Regions from separate parts of the Homo sapiens genome. Here region 2 is linked to region 1. The links come from fine-mapping of genetic effects on gene expression. A gene starts in region 1. The other region holds a variant in brackets. All regions are shown on one strand. Distances are between the middles of the regions. Region 1 holds the start of PPIP5K2 (diphosphoinositol pentakisphosphate kinase 2). Region 2 overlaps GIN1 (gypsy retrotransposon integrase 1).

Region 1 (2,920 bases):
ATATGCTCATATTTTCAAGAATTTCTCTTAAAATCATTACTTAATGTACTTAAACATGTAGGAATAAGAAAAAATGAAAGTGATTGATTACAACTTGTAGTTTTGCAAGAGGAATGTCAGGGTCACATTTGGTTAAGCTTTATACACTTTGTCCCCTCCATAAAAGCAAATAAAATCAACTCATTGCTTAATTCCTTTAATAATTTTGTGTTCAATAAAGTAAGGCAGTTAGGTATTATGTCAAGATTAGGACTTAACTGTTTCACCAAGGGTTAAAAACAAAGCCACCAATTTAAGCCCCTAAAAGGTTATAATACCCGCTGGTTCCATCTTAAAATCTGCAATTTTCAATCAACATGTTAACTTGGATCGGAATTCTGACATTTGAATTATTCTATTTTAAGCTCCAAAAAATGGACACGCACAATTTTATGCAACGTCAAGGACCTGTAAATTTAAATACACTTCTCTGTAATCTGGTTCACTTCAGAGTACAAATTCATTGAACAAAAAAATGCCTTCATCGCCATATGCATTCACATGAAGCCACATGGGATAAATGCATTTCCACTTTAAAAAGTATCTACTTTGGTTCAGAAATGCCCATTTAAGAAAAACCTACACTGAGATAAAGTGGACATTTTTCTTTTAAAACTACGTGACAGGATTCCCTCTTGACCTCACGTTTCTCCCCGCCACGTATTTAAATTTGGGGCAAAATTTCTGATTAAATGACTGATCAAAGTAATGGGGAGAATTCTTCAACGCCGGCCAAAAGTGCTTAGTCTCAAACGCTGTGAGGGAGCATTTCCTAAGCTTTGGGCGACTCGTTAACGGAATCTTAAGGGCAAGGTCCAACCACACTCAGAATCAGCAGGAAAATGACCGTTTGGTAAAACTCAATTACACCCAGTAGGCACCTCCCCAGGCCCGAAACAGCACTCGCCCTTTCTGCTCAGCTAGCGCGGGACATCGCAACGCCCAAGGCCCTCCTATCTCAAAGGCGCTTGCGCAAAATCTCCCCACAGACTCAATTAAACCCTTCCTTAGGCCGGTCGAGGCGAATGGTTTTGAAATTACTGTCGGGTTACGCCTCACTTTAAAAAACAGTAGGTATGACACAGCACACCAGAACGACCACTCACCGAGGTGGTCCTAAATTCAAACGACAGATTTAAGCTTCCTCTCGTGATTTATCTCGCGCTGCCGGAAGCGGAACTACCCGGGTCCTTTAGAGGGCAGTCCTTTGGGGAACCTTGGAACCACGGTCAGAAAGGTTAGGACTGATCATTTGGCTCTTGCCGGAAATCGTTCCGCCCGGTGAGGTTTCGGCGTGAGACCCGAGGAGGGCGGGGAAGAGGCGTGACGGAGATTCCTGAGGTGTAGTAGCCTGAGGTTCCCTTATGTGGCCCTATAGCTGTTACTGAAGGAAGTAGCCTACGTCCACGCCTACAACTGAAGTCTCTTGACAAACACCTCACCCCTGCCTCCGGGATGAAAGGGGGTAACCTAGACCTGAATGGGCTTGACCATCTCACAACTGCTCGCGTGACGACCGCATTCGTGGCAGGTGAGGGCCCAAAACCGGAGGAGAACCGGAGATGCGGAACCTGATCATGCCAGGGTTGAGGCGGCTGCTGGGCTTCTGCTTTGTCTCCTGTGCTCTGCAGACCCTAAACACATGCTCCACCGAGGGGCTTGTGCTGGAGAGAATGACAGCCTGGGCGTGGAGTGACAGTACAGCTTTGAGGGTCCTTTCGCGCCTTGATTTCTCCTCCTGCTCCCCCATGGCTTCCCTTTTTCATTTCTTGGGTTCGAGACGCCAGAAATTGAAGATCAGCTAAAAGGGAACCGCTGAGCTTCTACCCCACGCTGTGCCTGGCTCCACTGAAGTGATTAGCCTCGAGTTATGGGACTGCTGTGGGTAGAGGTGGCTTTTTAAAAAATTTTCTGCCTTAGTCTTTATCCCTCTCTCTGTCAACCCCACACCCACTTTAAAATAACAAAAGCCTCATGTGTTGCAGCTTTTCATAGTAGGGACCGAGGCTGCAGGGCACTGCCGCACCTAGTCATTTGGAGGTCGTTGCAGCCTTCTGCGCCTTGAAGAAGAAGGGGCCAGGGTGATGATCCCTGGATCTCATTCACGAGGTTCTTGACCACTTCCTGGGAGATTGCGACTCTTGGTGTCCTTTGGCTAGTAGTTGTCTTGCTGGAAGGCTTAACTGTGGAAGTGGGAAGCATAGCTGACCTTAGCACGTAAAATCCTCGCTCTACACTGGGACAGGATTTTGTTTTGCTATTGAGAATTCTTAAATGAAATAGATAATTTTTTTGTCTCAGATAGATAAAATAATAACGATAGTTGCCATTAACTGAGTCTTATGTGTGCCGAGTGCTTTACATAGTTTGTCATTTATTCCTCTCAACAATTCCAGGAGGTATGTTAGATTATTATCACCATTTTACAGAGTTAGAAATGGAGGCTTTGAACAGTCAAGCAACTTGCTCTATTAAACATTTGTTATAAGTAAACGTTTGAATCTGTGTTAAAAACCAGATCTGTCTGCCTTCAAAATCTGTATTCTATTGTCCTGTCCTGTTCTTCCTCGATTTCAATTTCTTCACTAACATTTTCAGTGTCTGAAAGTATCCATTCATTTAAAAAATTTTGGTGTACCTACTTATATGTCTGACAAAAGTTAGACATGATCTCTGTCTTTATGGAGCATTGTGATGCAGAATTAAGTAGTGCAGAACCCAGAATACTGTACTTACTGCAGCACAGGTTTATTTAAAGCAAATGACTAAACTGATTTGCAGAAAATTTTAAAATCAAAGGTTGCTGTTTTAAATGTTAAATTCATATGACTTTCAGAGTAGTTGTTGTGAGGGTATTAAACTGAACAATTGGTAGAACATC
Region 2 (2,920 bases), 33 kb before region 1:
CCTACCCTAAACACTTTTCCTTTAGCCTATATTAAACATAATCTTTCTTCTTAAATGAGTAATCAGAATACTCCAGGTCTCCATCTTTGATATCACATCACTGTTCAGTATGGTTGTGAAATATAATATGTGCGATATTCTGTACTGATCTTAAGACAGACTCCATTCATTACCAATGCTACAGGCCCAGTTTAGGTTTTTAGTATTCGTCATCACTGCGAAGTCCTCTCAACTAATCTCCATGCCTTGTTTTCTCCTCTTCTAATCTGTTCTTTACTAGTTGCCAGATTAAACTTCCAAAAACACAGTTCTGATTATGACAGTTTCCTATACAAAGTTTTTGCTCTCAGAAAAGAAATAATTTAGCCAGGCATTTGTATTATTGCTAGAGCTACTGTAACAAAGTCCCACAAACTGGATGGCTGAAACAATAGAATTTTATTGTCTCACAGTTCTGGAGGCAAAAGTCTGAGATAAGGTATTGACAGGGTTGGTCTTCTGAGGAATGAGGAAAAATGTATTCAATGCCTCTCCCCTAACTTCTGGTAGTTTTCTGGCAATCTCTGTCATTTCTTGGCATATAGAAACATAATCTTAAACTCTGCCTTTATCTTCACATGGCATTCTCCTTGAGTCTGTGTTCAAATTTTCCCCTTTTATCAGAACACCAGTAATACTGTATTAGAGCCCACCCTATTGAAATATGATCTCAACTAATTACACTTGCAACAACCTCATTTCCAAATAAGGTCACATTTTGAGGTGGTGGGGGTTAAGACTTCAACACAAATTTTGGGAGGGGCACATATCAATCCTTAATAGTATTCAAAGCTCTCCATAAGGTTTCCTACTTACCTTTTCAGCTTTATCCCTCATTATCTTGCTTCTTCACTTTATACCCGAGGCAGTGTAGACAACAAGAAGCCCTGCCTTTTTATGAATCATTACAATACTTTTCCATTTCTGTGTATTACTTCTCCCCTAATTCTTTTGTATCCATTTACCAAATCCTATACATTCTTCAAGGTCAAGCTTAAATGATCCTTCTTCCATAAGGATAAACACAAATTTCCTATGTAAAAACAACTTCTCTCTTTTTGCCTCCCTAAGTACATTATCTACACCTGTCTTCTGCAATTTAGCATGCCTTAACTTGTGCTGTACATGGCTTACATAGTTTATTACCTACCAGACAGTAAGTCCTTTATAAGAATGAGGTACACGTTTGACTCATCTTTTACTTTTCCCACAGTTCTTTTCATAGTGCTTTAGAATAAATATTTATTGAACAATATTTATT[T/C]TATATTTATGAATATCATAGAAATTACAGTTTAAAATCTTTGATACTGGTTATTTTATGATTTTATGATTGCAGAAAAAATTCTTAACGGATACTTTTGTTGTTGTTGTTGAGACAGGTCTTGCCCTGTCGCCCAGGCTGGAGAGCTGTGGCATGAGCGCGGCTCACTGCAGCCTCGACCTCCTGGGGTCAAGCAATGCTCCTACTTCAGCCTCCTGAGTAGCTGGGACCGCAGGCATGTGCCACCACACCTGGCTAATTTTTAAACATTTTTCTGTAGAGATAGGGTCTCCCTGTGTTGCCCAGGCTGGTCTCGAACTCCTGGGGTCAAGTGATCATCCTGCCTTGGCTTCCCAAAGCGCTGGGATTACAGGTGTGGGCCACCATGCCTGGTCGATGGTTTTATCTTTAATATATAGTATGAAAATAAACAAATTGTTTCCCAACCAATACATAGTTTCAGACCCTAATCCTGACCCTATCTAACCAATTAGATAATTTGAAATTACCAATATTCTGTGAAAGCCTATTAAATAACCCTATATTTTTTCATACAATCTTGTTTTTAGAAGTTCTAATGAAACAGAAAGAAGCTTCATTTCATTCATTGTTACAGTTGATTCAGTATTTATCAATTCCATTCAAGGTAGTTCAAACTTACTGTTTAAATGGTAGAGAATTTCAGAAAATTTAAAACTTAGAAACGGTGCCAAAACCATACAAAGGTTTGAGAGATTTGGGCTGGAATTTATTTCCCAAGAAGTAGGGGTGCTTTGCCTGTTCTCTTTTTAGAAGAAAAAGTGAATTCTATATATTACATGCTTCCTTTGCCTTCATATGTACGTATACTGATATTCAAATGTGGCATAATTTTAGATAAGAACTATAAAATAAACCTTCAGAATATAGTCATTAAGAATGTGTCAAGATACTTCTTCTATACAACGTTTTTAATGAATAAGATATCATTAAGAATTTATATTCTAAACAAACAATTTAAATAAATTTTGGTATTTACTAACTTAAGTATTCAAGAACCTGGTTTGAAGAGTCCAACAGACTGAAAGTCTGCTTTTCAAGAGAACTATGATCGTCTATCAATGGAGAGATTTTCGTATTTCTATATTCTAATAGTTCACGATCCTTGCTTGATGTCAGTAATTCATTATCGACTATACCAATAGTTGCATCTTCCACCAGAATATTTGCTTGATATGCTCCAATCGGAATTTCAGGCAATCCAATGTAGTCATGATCTGCCACTACTGAACCTTGCAAGAGATAAAGACTTTCTGAAAAAAGAAAAATCATACATTTGACTTTTAGAATTATAATTAAACATATTTTTTAATTAAACAATTTTAAGTGAGGAACAAAATCCCAAGTAATAAAAATTAACTATCAAGATTAACTTCTAGGGAGTTATACTGTCTACTAAATATGAATGTCAAAGAATAAAAAAATGACATATAAATTTGACAGTTCATACATAAACAATGCAGGAAAGGTCAAGGATTTTAAAACAGCCATTTTCCTGTTCCCTCAACCTGTCTTTGGTAGATATGTATATATGCGGACAACGGGATAGAAGGAGTGAGAATTATGGTATAGATTAAAAAT

The links. PIP is the estimated chance that this variant, and not a neighbour inherited with it, causes the effect.
Region 2: its variant is fine-mapped to the expression of PPIP5K2 in whole blood (INTERVAL, PIP above 0.99).

The regions. Positions count from the first base shown.
Region 1 is chr5:103,118,919-103,121,838 of GRCh38, forward strand. It overlaps PPIP5K2 (diphosphoinositol pentakisphosphate kinase 2), which reads left to right and starts at 1,383. Exons shown (of 31, transcript NM_001276277.3): 1 at 1,383-1,570. It overlaps GIN1 (gypsy retrotransposon integrase 1), which reads right to left and starts at 1,220. Exons shown (of 8, transcript NM_017676.2): 1 at 1,146-1,220. RefSeq lists enhancers at 356-857, 858-1,358, 1,194-1,453, 1,484-1,673, 1,724-1,783.
Region 2 is chr5:103,085,581-103,088,500 of GRCh38, forward strand. GIN1 (gypsy retrotransposon integrase 1) reads right to left here. Exons shown (of 8, transcript NM_017676.2): 8 at 420-2,592. The coding sequence ends at 2,318. Among named protein-coding and RNA genes, the nearest start is that of GIN1, 33 kb to the right of the region's middle. The variant T/C (reference allele first, on the strand shown) is at 1,301.